2 linked regions of the Homo sapiens genome follow. The protein of the gene in region 2 interacts with the protein of the main gene of each other region in a pairwise test. Each region holds a gene or a part of one and is shown on either strand. Other genes may lie near its edges.

Region 1 (7,723 bases), on a different chromosome or scaffold from region 2:
CAACATGCAGCTCCCCACCCACTCCCCTTTCTCTTTGCTCCCTCTCAAGGAACTCCTCCCACCACCAGCCTTCCAAGCCCTTAGGTTTTCCTCGGTCTTCTGTAAAGTGGCAGAAGACTCACCAGGAGAAGAGTGTGAGCAGGTGGTCTCCATGCTGCGGTACAGAGTTGCCATAGCAACAGCTTTCCGCCGGTGGTTGCACAGCTTGGTCATGTCCTCCTCTGATGCTGGCCCCACCCCAGCCCCACCCGGGGTCACCGGGGCCAAAGGGTCAAAGTTGAAAACCTGTAAGGTGGAAAGCAAGGACAGGGACCCTGAGGGGCTGGAACCTGTGAGAAGGGCTACCTCAGTCAGTGATTTGCATTAAGACTTTTAGCTTATCTCTGTACTCTCAGGCGCCCCTCACCACTCTGACCTTGGGGACATTAAGTGGACACTCCAGACCGCACTTGCAGGTCCCATCGCTGAGGAGGTAGCTCCGGGTTTGCTCCAAGGAAGACAGCTCTGTGCCACTTGGACTGCGAGAGGACAGGGTCAGAGGACATGGGGTTAGCTGGCAGCGAATCAGGCAATACTCCTAAAGCACAGTGCTTAAGTTACAGATCCTCCTAGAAGAACAGAGGATAAGGAATGTGGGAAGACACAGAAAAAGGGAGAATGGATTCAAAGGCCCAGAGCTACAGAAAGCAAAAAGGCTGAGGAAGGAAGGGGAAGAGAGGAGAGCAATCGGGTACCAGAGAGCTGAGCTGAGAGAAGAAACGGAAGAAAGAAAACCTGGGCAACTGGAGTGGCAGAGCTTGGGGACCTGTGAAGATCCGTACCTGATGTAGAGCACAGCACCCTCTCGCACACAGCGCTGCCAGCCGATGGGGACAGATGTGGCCACAGGGCCCCCAGCTCTGTCTGCTCCACTGCTCTCATTGCCCCCATTCATTGTGTGTAATCAGCTCCCGCGTGCCTGATAACACAGACATCCATGTAGGCACTAGGAGGATTAAACTGAGCGAAGTACCTGAGAGAGGACTCCAGGAAGGCAAAGGTTGTGGGGAGACCCAAGAAAACTCAGGGGAAGCCCCAGAGGAGCAAGGGGAACCCCTCAGCTGGGAGGGAGACTGAGGAGTCCTCTGCCGTATCACCACAGCTACCTGAACATCTCTGCAAACATTGTGGGGTCCAGTCTAAAGCCGGGGCCACCAGCTTAGCCCACACCTGCAACGCAAGTAGAGAGATGGGACTGTCAGGAGTCTGCCCAACTCTAAAGAGCAGCACAGCCCAGCACCCTCTCAAAAGAAAGATCCTTAACAATGTGAGGCAAGCACCTATAAAGATCTCGGGGATCTGCTGGCTTAGTCTACAACCATCCTTTCCAAGCCCAGTCCCTAGGGACCAGAGGGTCAGAACCTCAGCTCCCTGGGACCAAGAAAGTCTAGCCCAATTCTTAGGCATATGAAGGGCAAGGCCTCCCTCCATTCGGAGTAGAAGACTTCAACCAGGAGTATGGGCACATTCCCATAATGCTAGGCCACTAGGAAGTTTCCCAGAGTGTCTGGCTCCTGTTGTTCTCTACCCAGGAAGATGATATAAAAAGTACAGATTGCCCCACAGGTCACCAGGCAATTGCCCAACTGCCCGCTGGGGTGGTACCAGCAGAACTCCCCCCATGCCTGCTCCATCAGACAATCGCTGATATAGTTCATTCGGGTCTTAAGAGGTGAGGATCACAGCTCAGTCTTCTCCCAGGATCCTGGGAAGCTCCTGATTTTCCCTCAAGCCTACGGCAAAGGGATTCAGAACCTCCTATTCCACTGGCTTCCGATTATCTCCAAGAGAGCCTGTCCTCCGATAGAAGGGGAAGCCCCTCCAACCTGCAGGTATCCTCCCCAGCCTCACCATTGCTCCCACCCCACACTGGCGGCTTCCAAACTTTCCCTCTCACAACAAGGCGCCCTGTCACCCAGACTGCTTCCCTCAGCTTGAGGAGGAGGGGAAGGCGCACGAAGTAGGAAGGAACTTGGGGAGAGGGCGGGCGGAGGGTGGGCGAAGCACTGAGGGGAGGGCGGTGAGGAAGGCAGAAGTCTGGCAGTGAGAGGGAGAAGCGGCGGGGGCAGGTGAGGGCGGGGGAGTGGGGATGGGGCCGGGGAAAGGGGCCGAGAGGACGCGGAGGGGGCAGAGGGTAGGGACGGGAGGGGGAGGGGCAGGGTGGGGGGGGCCGGGCCCCGCACTCACCGCGGCCCATGGTTCGGCCGGCCCCGCCCTGCGCAGTCGCGGCCCAGAGGGTGAGTGGGAGGGGGTGGGAGGAGGGTCGGTGGAGCCCGAGCCTCCGGTACGGCCCCGGCCGGTCCTAGCAGGAAGCGCCGCTGCCGCCGCCGCGGATCACCGAGCGGCCTCCCGCGCATGCGCCATGGGGGCCAGGGGCAGCCCTGGGGATTCCGTTCCCAGAAGGCACTGCGCAGGCTGCTGCCGCTGCCGCCGCCGCCGTCGCTGCCGCAGCCGCCGCCGCAGGAGCCGCCGCCTCCGCCGCTGCCCGGACGGGAGAGGGGCGGGGCCGGGCCCCCGCCCAGCGGACAGCGACGAGCCAACTGGAGGGGCTGCAGTGCGCATGCGGGAGCGCGCCTACCCCTCCCCCACAACCCCCCATTAATCCCCAAGAGAACAAACACCCCACGCGGCCCCCCCGCCCTCCGCGGAAGGATCTGCGCCTCTTCCCAGGCCACTGGTGGCCAATCCCAGCCCTCCTCAGGGAGGGGCCCCTTCCAAAGCCACAGTCTGTTGCGGGAACCAGGAATGCCAGGTCCGGGAGGGGCCAGGCCCCGAAAGATGAAAGTCGCGACTTGCCCTGCCCCGCCCCAAAGGCTTCCCGGGTAGTGTGCTGGGACTTGACCCGCCTCCCCAGGTCAACATGTCACAACACGACCTCAGCCTGTCAAGTCACATGACCTCTGCCTGTCACTGACAACCTGGTCTGTCTTTAGGCCAGGGGAGACCATCTGGTCCACCCTCCACACTACCCCCATTTTCAGAGAGGAAATGGAGGTGTGGAGCAGCGGAGCAGCCTAACCAAAGACCTGTCATTGCCACACCACTCCAGTCACAACCGGCCTTGTGACAGTTTCTACTTAAACTCTGGCTGCCCCCATGAGGGTATGACAGGATATGTAACAGGCCACCACATGGCCTCTGTTTTCAAGGCACAAGAAAAATACTTTGCATTCTGGGTGGTGCGTTTTACTTTTGGTCAAGTTGCCTCCAAGTTCATGGTTCTCATTTTACCTTCACAACTTTTATCTTTAATTTACAAACAAGGACGGTAAGATCCCTTGGCAAGTGATGGGGAGTTGAGTCTAAAATCGCGGCTCCGGTCTCCCCAGTCCAGGGCAGTCCTGCGCTGAAGTGCACTCACACGTCCCGGGATGAGACTCCGCTGTAAATCTCGACCCGAACACCTAGGAGGCAGGCCTGTGCCGCGCTCCTCACACAGGGAGTCACAGGACTTGCTGTCTGGTACAGCAAGAGAGGGTCTTGGAGAAAGCCATAGGAGTACCGTGGGGGAAAATAGGTGGCCAAACAGAATCGGGTCCACTGGGCAAAATACATGACTTCTGGCAGGCTGAGGGCTTACCAACTACAAGGTAAAAGTCAAGGGCGCTGTTCTGAGAGAAGCGGAAAATGACTACCAAGGGATTCCAGTACCTCGGCCCCTTTTGGGAGATTTACGGGGCTAGAACAGGAGACCACCCCCGTTTTTTTGTTTGTTTGTTTTGTTTTTTGTTTTTGGTGAAACGTAGTCTCGCTCTGTCACCCAGGCTGGAGTGCAGTGGCGCGATCTCGGTCACTGCAACATCCGCCTCCAGGGTTCAAGCGATTCTTCTGCCTCTGCCTCCAGAGTAGCTGGGATTACAGGCGCGCATCACCACACCCGGCTAATTTTTGTATTTTTAGTAGAGACGGGGTTTCACCATGTTGGTCAGGCTGATCTCGAACTCCTGACCTCAAGTGATCCGCTCTCCTCAGCCTCCCAAAGTGCTGGGATTACAGGCGTAAGCCACTGAGCCCGGCCAGGAGACCTCTTTAAGAAGACTCGAGATGTCGACAATCCCAGTGGATGGATACCAACTTTAAAAAGAAAAGTTCAAAAGGCCTATGTGCCCATTAGCTGGGAGGGGCCAAGAAATATGGGAGTCCCTTATAGTGGGGGTAAAACGGCGGGTAAAGCTAGGTGGGCGGAACAGCAGCTTCTGGGGGAGACAAGCGGCAAAGAGGCTCACGACCGACTAGGGGCGACCAAGGCTGATAGCCGTTGGGGCCGTTGGGCGCCGGGAGCTGGCGCCCCGCCCTCTCTCCTCTCCCCCACCCTCCGCACCTCCCACCACCCTCGGTGTCCCCTGCGCGTGCGCGTGCAGACACCGGTTGCCAAACATTGCATCATCCCCGCCCCCCTTTCCTCCCCTCCCCCCCCGCTACACTCCCCTCCGCGCGCGCGCATGACTCACCCACCTCCTCCGTGAAGCCTCGTGACCCAAAGCCACTTCCGGGTCCGACACTACGTCGACCCCCTAGCGAGAGGGAGCGACGGGGGCGGTGCCGCGGGGCTCCTGAGTGGCGGATGCGAGGGACGGGGCGGGGCCAATGCCGGCGTGCCACTTTCTGATTGGTAGGTTTTGGGGTCCCGCCCCTGAGAGGAGGGCAAGGCCATGGTAAAAGATTACAGCCAGGCGCTCCCGAGGTCAGAGACTTAAGTCTAAGGCACTGAGCGTATCATGTTAAAGATGAGCGGGTGGCAGCGACAGAGCCAAAATCAGAGCTGGAACCTGAGGAGAGAGGCGAGTACTGATTCCCATCTACCTTTTACCCTCCCGTCTCCTCAAAGTTGGGGCGTCCGCTCTTTAGGATCGGCCTCACTCCTCCACAGTGAAGTTAGGGACCGTCCGAGAGAGGAATGGGGAGAGTCCCTTATTCTGGGGTGGTGCTTACAAACCCCTATTGCTTCGGACGACGGCGTCTCTCCACCCCTGCCCGGAGCCGGAACACGGGCCCTGCTCTGTGCTGCTGGGCAAAGGGACCTCGGTTGCCCTTGGGAAATTCATTCTTTCCCGTAGCCAACTTCAGGCCTCATCGTTAGGCCTGTCCGCGGGGAGGCAGGTCAGCAGGACACACCCCCGCTCTAAGACTGGGTGACCATCGCTCAGGCCGTTTCCGCCGCTTCGCCACCAGCGGGCCTTCTCCCTACCCCACCCCCAATTCTGTCTCAGTCTCAGTGCCTCTGGTGTCAGCATGGCCACCTTGGTAGCTGGGGCTACTGGACCCTGCAGCGGATAGGGGAACCTTGAGGAGACACAAGCCTTTGGGAGGGGTGCCGATGGACAGGGAGTGGTGTGTTTTCCTTTTGCCGTAGAGGTCTCTGGGCCTCCTGCACAAGAGAGCAGCCTGGATCTCTTAAGTGTAGGAGGCCATTTGGGGTCTCCCCAGGGTATTGTCCTTCCCTCGGGATTAGTCCCTGCCTCTTTAACCCGGTCCTGTCTCCCAGCTAATCTCTGTGTAACCATTGCATCAGGCCAGCCCCGTTTGGCTCTGCAGCCTTCTGACCTGAGGCTCTACTGCTGATGAAAGCCAAGTCCCACACACTGGAAGGCAAGGGAGGGTTCCCCAGGGAGGACAGCCCTGCAGAGAAATACTTCGGGCAATATTGCATCTCTAGCCCCTAGGGATCAGCAGCTGCCACTCTGCTTCTGCCCCTTCCCTATAAGAGAGACTGGGGGGAGTTTATCCATTCATTCTTAACAAATACTTAATGAGGACCTACTGTGTGCCACACAGTTTGGGGCTCAGGGTACATCCTTGAGCAAGAGGAAAAAATCATCTCAGTGGGAGGCCTACAGTAAACAAAATATAAGTGCCACGGAGAAAGCTAAAGCAGAGAAAGGAATGGAGAATGTTCAGGATGGAGGTCAGAGTGTTACATCAGGTGGTCAGGAATTACCTTAGGTAATTCCTCCACTCAAAACCCTTCAGTGACTTCCATGACATGAAATAGGAAGTCATTGGAGGGTTTGAGCAGAGGAATGACCTGTTTTAAAAGGCTCACTCAGGCTGCTGTATGGTGAATAGAGTTGCGGAGGGGTGGCAAGAGAAGAAATGGGAAGACCTTCTGCAGTCAGAAAGTTTCTGCAGTAATTTAGAGATGGTAGTGAATTGATCTAGATTGGAAACAATGGAATTAGAAGTGTTTAGATTCTTCTAAGCAAAGGTTTTAAAAACTCATTTTTAAAGAATGAGTTAAGGGCCGGGCATGGTGGCTCACACCTGTAATCCCAGCACTTTGGGAGACCAGAGGTGGGTGGATCACCTGAGGTCAGGAGTTCAAGACCAGCCTGGCCAACATGGTGAAATCCCATCTTTACTAAAAATACAAAAATTAGCCGGGCATGGCAGTGCATGCCTGTAATCCCAGCTACTCCGGAGGCTGAAGCAGGAGAATCGCTTGAACCCAGCAGGCGGAGGTTGCAGTGAGCCGATTGCGCCACTGCCTTCCAGCCTGGGCAAAAAGAGTGAGACCCGTCTCAGAAAAAAAGGAATGAGTTAAAATTTGCTAGTACTTTGGATTGCAGGGTGTGAGAGAAGAGGAATGAAGGATGATACCAAGGTTTTTAGCTTAAGCAACTAGAGTTGTCATCTGAGATGGGGATGACCTTGGAAGGGGAAAATCAGCAAGAGTTTGCCTTTGCACATAGTCTTAGGTGCCTATTAGACATTGAAAAAGAAATGGCAAGTAGGCAGTAGACAGCAGAGTCTGAAGTTCTGGAAGAGGTCCAGACTGGAAATGTACATTTGGAGGATGTCAGCCCTGTGGGAATGGAGTTAGGAAAATGCTATGATTTGTTCCCTTCCCTGTAGTTTAGTTTTTACCCTGGCAGATTTGAGGCCTGCTTTGGATTTAGAGAAAGCTGAGTTGGCCAGGACTTTACTATTATGTAACCAGGACTACAAATGTCAGCAACTAAAAATAAAGAAAGTCAGGCCCTCTTCTGCCCTTCGAAATGGCTACAGGGACCAAGTATGCATACCCCACAAGACCAGAAGTAAGGAAGGACCAGTAGGAGGCTGGAGGTAAAAGAAAAATAAGGGCCCAGCACGGTAGCTCATGCCTATAATCCCAGCACTTTGGGAAGCGATGGATCACAAGGTTAAGAGATGGAGACCATCCTGGCCAACATAGTGAAACCCTATCTCTGCTAAAAACACAAAAATTAGCTGGGCGTGGTGGCACGCGCCTGTAGTCCCAGCTACTCGGGAGGCCGAGGCAGAAGAATCACTTGAACCGAGGAGGCAGAGGTTGCAGTGAGCCGAGATCGCACCACTGCACTTCAGCCTGGCAACAGAGCAAGACTTGGTCTCAAAAAAAAAAAAAGAAAGAAAAAAAGAAAAAGAAAAGTAAGTTGCCTCTCCCCCTTCCAAAAATGGCTGACATTTCTCTTTGTTGCCCACAGTGTTCAAGAAGGAAGTGTATCTTCATACATCACCACACCTGAAAGCAGGTAAACTTAACCTACCCTTTTCCAAAAATTTTAAACGGCAGGACAGTAAATATTTTAGATGTTAAAAGTCCTATAGTCTCTAGCGTGACTCTTCATCTCTGCCACTGTAGCACCAAAGCAGCCATAAACAATATGTAAATAAACAGATGTGGCTGTATTCCAGTACAACTTTACCTACAAAAACAGGCATC
Region 2 (7,026 bases):
GCATTAGGAAGGTTAAACCAAAGTAAAATAAAACATTTCTAGGGCTCTGTTTGTCTTCTCAAAATGGTTAGTGCTGTGATTGACTCCAGAATCAGGCTTCATCCTGGAGCATCCAAAACTCAGGACCACCGTTTCCCGGGGACTCACGCTCAACCCCCCACACTGGGCCTGTGTACACCCCCATCCACAGCCTCAGGAAGAAGGACCTTAAAGGTGGTCACAGAAGAATTTACAAGCTGCTCTTAGGACTGGCTTTGTCTCAGTTGCACATGAGCCAGAGCCACTTCTCCCAATCAAAGGTGATTTCTCCTTTGCTCCCACTTCTCCAGCCACAAGCCAACTGTCTATGAGACTGTCAGACATCAGCCCCCTCTCCCTTACCCTGTGGGACTCTCCCATGGAAAGTGCCTCCATCGACCCCAGGGTCTCACCCCAACTCCCCAGCTAATTTCCTGCTTTAGGGCTTGGGCAGGACACTTCTATCTAGGGCCCTAGACACCCCCTGTCCTCTGAGAACCCCGCCAGGCCTAGCCAGAGACCTACCACTTGCCCTCAAAACCATTTCCTCCTCATCCCGAGGTACACTTTTAGGCTTCCAAGGAAAAACCAGAACATGGTAGATGGATCTTCGCAACTGCTCCAAGGTCTTCCCCTCCAAAACCACAAAGCAGGCAGGTGAGTATCCTGGAATGAGTCCCCAGTGGCCTCCTGGGGGCTTGGAGAGGGGCCTCCAATTTCCTGGGCATTATATGTGTCAGGGGGTGGTAATCCCAGCCAGAAGCCTGGCATTCAGCCCCCAAGTCCTGACATCTTGTTCTAATCTACCCTGCCCGCTCATTACTGGGGCAATACAAGTCTCCATCCTTTCCCATCTGGTCAACACCCCCTCTCCGTCTTGGCCAGAGTAGATTCTCAGGAACCCAAATCCGACAACGAAGCTCCCCTGCTAAAATCTGGAGGTCAAAAGCCTGGGAGATAAGGGTTCCCCCTTCACCTGCAGTGGCCTTGGCCATCAGCCCAGCCCTGTCTGCGGATCCAGCCTTATCTAGGCCCCACCCTCCCTCACCCCACTCTCCAGCCGGCCAACCATCTCGTTCTTTGTTACCAGAACACATGCACTGGCAGGCTCTCCACCTTTGCACTTACCATTCCCTCCTCCTAGAAGAGCCTTCCTCCCTTATCCTTCCAGCAAATTCCTGCTCAACTTTCAAGGCCCAGCTCAAAGGTCTGCTCCTGCATGAAGCCCTGTCTCACCGCCGGTTCAGTCCAAGCAGGCTGCCATCATAGACCTACCATAAACATTTATTTCTCATGGTTCTGGAGGCTGGATGCCCAAGGCCAAAGCCAAGCTGCCAGCACCCTCAGGTTCTGGTGAGGGGCCTCTTCCCTGCTTGCAGACGGCCACCTCCTTTCTGTGCATGCCCATGACATTGTTCTTCTGATAAGGCCACCAATCCTATCAAATTAGGACCCTACCCATATGACATCATCTCACTTTAATGACTTCCTAAAAGCCTTATCTCCAAATACAGTCACATGGGGGTTAGGCCTTCAACATAGGAATTTGGGGCAGGGACACAGTTCAGTCCATAACACCTCCGCAGACAAATCTGATCTCTGCCTCCTCCACAGCGCCACCTTGTTCAGGGCAGGACTTCTCTTCATCACAGCACATCCACCCTTGATTCCCATTTGTGCCTCGTGTGCATTTGATGAATGAATGAAGTCCCATCCCCTACTCCTTCTGTCTCCTCCTTCCTCCCAGCAGCCTCTGTGTGACAACTTATCCGTCTCTCCCACTGTCCCAGTTCCCAGAGGCAGGAGCCACCCTCTCATGCATCCCTGGGCTCTCGGCACCCTGCACAGGGCAGGCCCGGGTGGGTGAATTCTGGTTCAATTGTAGGAGGACCTGTGGCCCCTGGGGTTGGCGAACCCCGGGCCGGGAGTCCCACTCCTTGCCATTGTCGCCCCCACACATTCATCAGCCCCCTATTGGACAAAGTCTTATTCCCATTACTGAGGTTTCTTCCAGTCCTACGGGGCAGAGTTCCCGATCTCTGGGCAGGCAACAGCAGCTGTGCAAAAAAGGCCAGACATCGCCTTCCTCCCACAACTCCACAGGCCGGGAACCGTGCATGTACAGTGGCGTTTCTTTGTTCCTAGGTAGGAAAAGCCATTAGTTTTAGCACCGCAGAAAAAAACGCAAATCGCTCTTGGTGCTTTTTGATTTCCGTCCAGGTCTCCCTCCACAGGTGAATGCTATATGAATGGGTCCTGCATTTGGCTCAGCAAGCAGCTCTCCGGCTCACATCGGGATATTTATTTAACGTATCTGGTTTTTACTCCCTCCCGTCCAAAAGCGTCAAGCTAAAAATATCTTGTTTATGAGCTCTGGACCGAAAACGAAGCAGTTGGGCTATTAATCACTGGGACTATGTTGAATAGGAACTTGATTAAAGCGCAGTGTGCGTTGCCCAGATGAAACTGCTTCTTTACTGCGATCGTCGTGGAAGCTCGGGGCTCTCCAGCGGTGTTTTTAGCTGTGCCCCCTCCGGGGCTCCTGGGCGGGTCGTGGCGCCTTGCCAGGCCTAAGGCCACTGTCGGTGAAGGGGGTCTTCCCTCACCTGTAGGCAAGCGCGCCTCTAGCCGGGACGCAGGCGGCGTCAGGCCTCAGCGCCAGTGGCGAGGGGCGGCGCGGGCAAGGACAGGAGACACTTGAGGGCTCCCAAGACTCCATCTGGGCCCAGCTGACGGTCCGTAGCCGCCACCCCGGCCCCGGTAAAGAATGCGAGGGACGCACGTGGCTGGGGGTCTCGGTGGCAAGCTCCTTCCCCCGCCGCGGTGAGAGCATTAGCTGCCGCACTCAAGGGGCCCCAGGGCCTGGCCGCCTCGGTCCCTAGGATCCCGGGGACTACAGCGCCCGGCGAACCACTGGGCAGAGTTCTCCCTGTGCGTGCTCGGACCTGGCAGCCCGGCGGCCTGGACACCCTCGCTCCCGCCGTTGGCGCCCACCTGAATGGGGAGGCGGGGGAGGAAGCGGTGGCTTCGGGCCTCGAGGGCTGCGGCCCCCGCCTCGGAATCCCGGCCCCAGAGTTAAGTTTGTCTCCTCCCTCGGTGCGCCCCTCCCCGTGCTCGCCCCGGCGTCCAGCTCCGCTAGTCTGGGGGGCCCCGCGGTCCCGCAGGAAAAAAAATCGGCGACTCCACGCCGGGTAACAGCGCCGGCCCCGCGCGCCTAGCAAGCCGCGCGCTCCGACCTGGAGAAGTAATTATAAAGAAAGTTTTCCAGCCCGGGCGGATCGACCGGCCAGGTCCTCCAGGCTCCCGGGCCGAGGCCGCCTCCGCTCCCCGCGGGGTCCTAGCGCCCTGCGCGGCGCCGCCCATGGGACCCCGGCGTCCTCCGAGAGGTACCTCTGCGCGGAATCACAGGGGTAGCCTGGAGATCAGAGCTAGGAGACGCAGAGCCACCGCGCTCAGGACCTCTCCGCGCGTCCCAAACGGCCCCCCACCGGCCCCAGCCCCGCTGCTCTGCGCTGCAGCCTCCCCGGGACGCGGGTCCGGGACAGGCCTGGTTCTGGCTTTGAAAGAGAATCCGCGCCCCAGCAGCTCAAGACCAAGACTCGCCCTCCGCCCCCCACCCCTACCCCGTGCAGCCTCGGGATACTCCTGGGCTCCCGGCCGTGGCTGGATACGGGCGCCTAGGGCAGGCAGGAGGAGGGGGCCCCCGCTACCGACCACGTGGGCGCGGGGGCGACGGCCGGGCCGGGGGCGGAGCTTGGAGCGAGCGCCGCGGCTCTGCTGGGCGCGCTGGAGGCGGTGGGCGTTGCGCCGCGGCCTGCCTGGGGAGCGCGGCGCTGTGCCGCGCTGGTTCGCCGCCCCATGCCGGCCGCGCGCTAGGACCCAGCAGGCGCCGCGCCGCCGCAGCCCGGGGACAGAGGCCGCCTCGGACTCTAGGGGGCGACGCGGCCTGCCGGGTATAAAAGCTGGGCCGGCGCGGGCCGGGCCATTCGCGACCCGGAGGTGCGCGGGCGCGGGCGAGCAGGGTCTCCGGGTGGGCGGCGGCGACGCCCCGCGCAGGCTGGAGGCCGCCGAGGCTCGCCATGCCGGGAGAACTCTAACTCCCCCATGGAGTCGGCCGACTTCTACGAGGCGGAGCCGCGGCCCCCGATGAGCAGCCACCTGCAGAGCCCCCCGCACGCGCCCAGCAGCGCCGCCTTCGGCTTTCCCCGGGGCGCGGGCCCCGCGCAGCCTCCCGCCCCACCTGCCGCCCCGGAGCCGCTGGGCGGCATCTGCGAGCACGAGACGTCCATCGACATCAGCGCCTACATCGACCCGGCCGCCTTCAACGACGAGTTCCTGGCCGACCTGTTCCAGCACAGCCGGCAGCAGGAGAAGGCCAAGGCGGCCGTGGGCCCCACGGGCGGCGGCGGCGGCGGCGACTTTGACTACCCGGGCGCGCCCGCGGGCCCCGGCGGCGCCGTCATGCCCGGGGGAGCGCACGGGCCCCCGCCCGGCTACGGCTGCGCGGCCGCCGGCTACCTGGACGGCAGGCTGGAGCCCCTGTACGAGCGCGTCGGGGCGCCGGCGCTGCGGCCGCTGGTGATCAAGCAGGAGCCCCGCGAGGAGGATGAAGCCAAGCAGCTGGCGCTGGCCGGCCTCTTCCCTTACCAGCCGCCGCCGCCGCCGCCGCCCTCGCACCCGCACCCGCACCCGCCGCCCGCGCACCTGGCCGCCCCGCACCTGCAGTTCCAGATCGCGCACTGCGGCCAGACCACCATGCACCTGCAGCCCGGTCACCCCACGCCGCCGCCCACGCCCGTGCCCAGCCCGCACCCCGCGCCCGCGCTCGGTGCCGCCGGCCTGCCGGGCCCTGGCAGCGCGCTCAAGGGGCTGGGCGCCGCGCACCCCGACCTCCGCGCGAGTGGCGGCAGCGGCGCGGGCAAGGCCAAGAAGTCGGTGGACAAGAACAGCAACGAGTACCGGGTGCGGCGCGAGCGCAACAACATCGCGGTGCGCAAGAGCCGCGACAAGGCCAAGCAGCGCAACGTGGAGACGCAGCAGAAGGTGCTGGAGCTGACCAGTGACAATGACCGCCTGCGCAAGCGGGTGGAACAGCTGAGCCGCGAACTGGACACGCTGCGGGGCATCTTCCGCCAGCTGCCAGAGAGCTCCTTGGTCAAGGCCATGGGCAACTGCGCGTGAGGCGCGCGGCTGTGGGACCGCCCTGGGCCAGCCTCCGGCGGGGACCCAGGGAGTGGTTTGGGGTCGCCGGATCTCGAGGCTTGCCCGAGCCGTGCGAGCCAGGACTAGGAGATTCCGGTGCCTCCTGAAAGCCTGGCCTGCTCCGCGTGTCCCCTCCCTTCCTCTGCGCCGGACTTGGTGCGTCTAAGATGAGGGGGCCAGGCGGTGGCTTCTCCCTGCGAGGAGGGGAGAATTCTTGGGGCTGAGCTGGGAGCCCGGCAACTCTAGTATTTAGGATAACCTTGTGCCTTGGAAATGCAAACTCACCGCTCCAATGCCTACTGAGTAGGGGGAGCAAATCGTGCCTTGTCATTTTATTTGGAGGTTTCCTGCCTCCTTCCCGAGGCTACAGCAGACCCCCATGAGAGAAGGAGGGGAGCAGGCCCGTGGCAGGAGGAGGGCTCAGGGAGCTGAGATCCCGACAAGCCCGCCAGCCCCAGCCGCTCCTCCACGCCTGTCCTTAGAAAGGGGTGGAAACATAGGGACTTGGGGCTTGGAACCTAAGGTTGTTCCCCTAGTTCTACATGAAGGTGGAGGGTCTCTAGTTCCACGCCTCTCCCACCTCCCTCCGCACACACCCCACCCCAGCCTGCTATAGGCTGGGCTTCCCCTTGGGGCGGAACTCACTGCGATGGGGGTCACCAGGTGACCAGTGGGAGCCCCCACCCCGAGTCACACCAGAAAGCTAGGTCGTGGGTCAGCTCTGAGGATGTATACCCCTGGTGGGAGAGGGAGACCTAGAGATCTGGCTGTGGGGCGGGCATGGGGGGTGAAGGGCCACTGGGACCCTCAGCCTTGTTTGTACTGTATGCCTTCAGCATTGCCTAGGAACACGAAGCACGATCAGTCCATCCCAGAGGGACCGGAGTTATGACAAGCTTTCCAAATATTTTGCTTTATCAGCCGATATCAACACTTGTATCTGGCCTCTGTGCCCCAGCAGTGCCTTGTGCAATGTGAATGTGCGCGTCTCTGCTAAACCACCATTTTATTTGGTTTTTGTTTTGTTTTGGTTTTGCTCGGATACTTGCCAAAATGAGACTCTCCGTCGGCAGCTGGGGGAAGGGTCTGAGACTCCCTTTCCTTTTGGTTTTGGGATTACTTTTGATCCTGGGGGACCAATGAGGTGAGGGGGGTTCTCCTTTGCCCTCAGCTTTCCCCAGCCCCTCCGGCCTGGGCTGCCCACAAGGCTTGTCCCCCAGAGGCCCTGGCTCCTGGTCGGGAAGGGAGGTGGCCTCCCGCCAACGCATCACTGGGGCTGGGAGCAGGGAAGGACGGCTTGGTTCTCTTCTTTTGGGGAGAACGTAGAGTCTCACTCTAGATGTTTTATGTATTATATCTATAATATAAACATATCAAAGTCAATGTCGGTGTCTTTTTAAAACCAGAAAGAAGCTACTTCCAAGGTTGTCTGTGGGCCAGGTCACATTTGTAAATAATACAGCATTTTCCCTGGCGGCAATCCTGACTTTCATGAGCTCTCCATCCATCCTGAGCCCCTCTTACCCTAAGGGGGTGACTTACTTCCCCCAGGCAAGACAAATAAATAGCAGAGGACAAGGCTCCAAATGGAGTATGTCCAGAGCCTGAAGGCAGTCTCTTGGGGTCAGGGGAGGGGGCTGAAGGGGTTACTGGGCTGAGGCCTTGGCGAGGCTTCTTATCTGCCCCGGGGAGGAGGAGAGGGAGTCCTCTGCCTGAGGGGTAGGCCTGGCTAAGCAGCCCTAGGCTCAAGGAGCCCTTTGTGCAGACTTCCTTGCAAATCACCTACAGCTGCAGCCCTGGCCACTC

Evidence for each region. The genes of interacting proteins can lie anywhere in the genome.
Region 1: the proteins of CEBPA (region 2) and DDIT3 interact in binary tests that used the Homo sapiens proteins (3 or more experiments, as listed by UniProt).

The regions. Positions count from the first base shown.
Region 1 is NC_000012.12:57,517,515-57,525,237, reverse strand, and holds the start of DDIT3 (DNA damage-inducible transcript 3 protein), read left to right. Parts: upstream 1-4,723; 5' UTR 4,724-4,757; coding exon of another isoform or gene 4,758-4,820; intron 4,821-5,978; exon of another isoform or gene 5,979-6,075; intron 6,076-7,484; coding exon of another isoform or gene 7,485-7,526; 5' UTR 7,527-7,532; exon of another isoform or gene 7,533-7,723. Other genes in the region: MBD6 (methyl-CpG-binding domain protein 6), read right to left, coding at 123-285, 416-518, 822-934; uncharacterized LOC128125814, read left to right, coding at 4,758-4,820, 7,485-7,526. UniProt on the Homo sapiens protein: Multifunctional transcription factor in endoplasmic reticulum (ER) stress response. Plays an essential role in the response to a wide variety of cell stresses and induces cell cycle arrest and apoptosis in response to ER stress.
Region 2 is NC_000019.10:33,299,511-33,306,536, reverse strand, and holds CEBPA (CCAAT/enhancer-binding protein alpha), read left to right. Parts: upstream 1-4,002; 5' UTR 4,003-4,017; coding exon of another isoform or gene 4,018-4,122; coding exon 4,123-5,199; 3' UTR 5,200-6,603; downstream 6,604-7,026. UniProt on the Homo sapiens protein: Transcription factor that coordinates proliferation arrest and the differentiation of myeloid progenitors, adipocytes, hepatocytes, and cells of the lung and the placenta.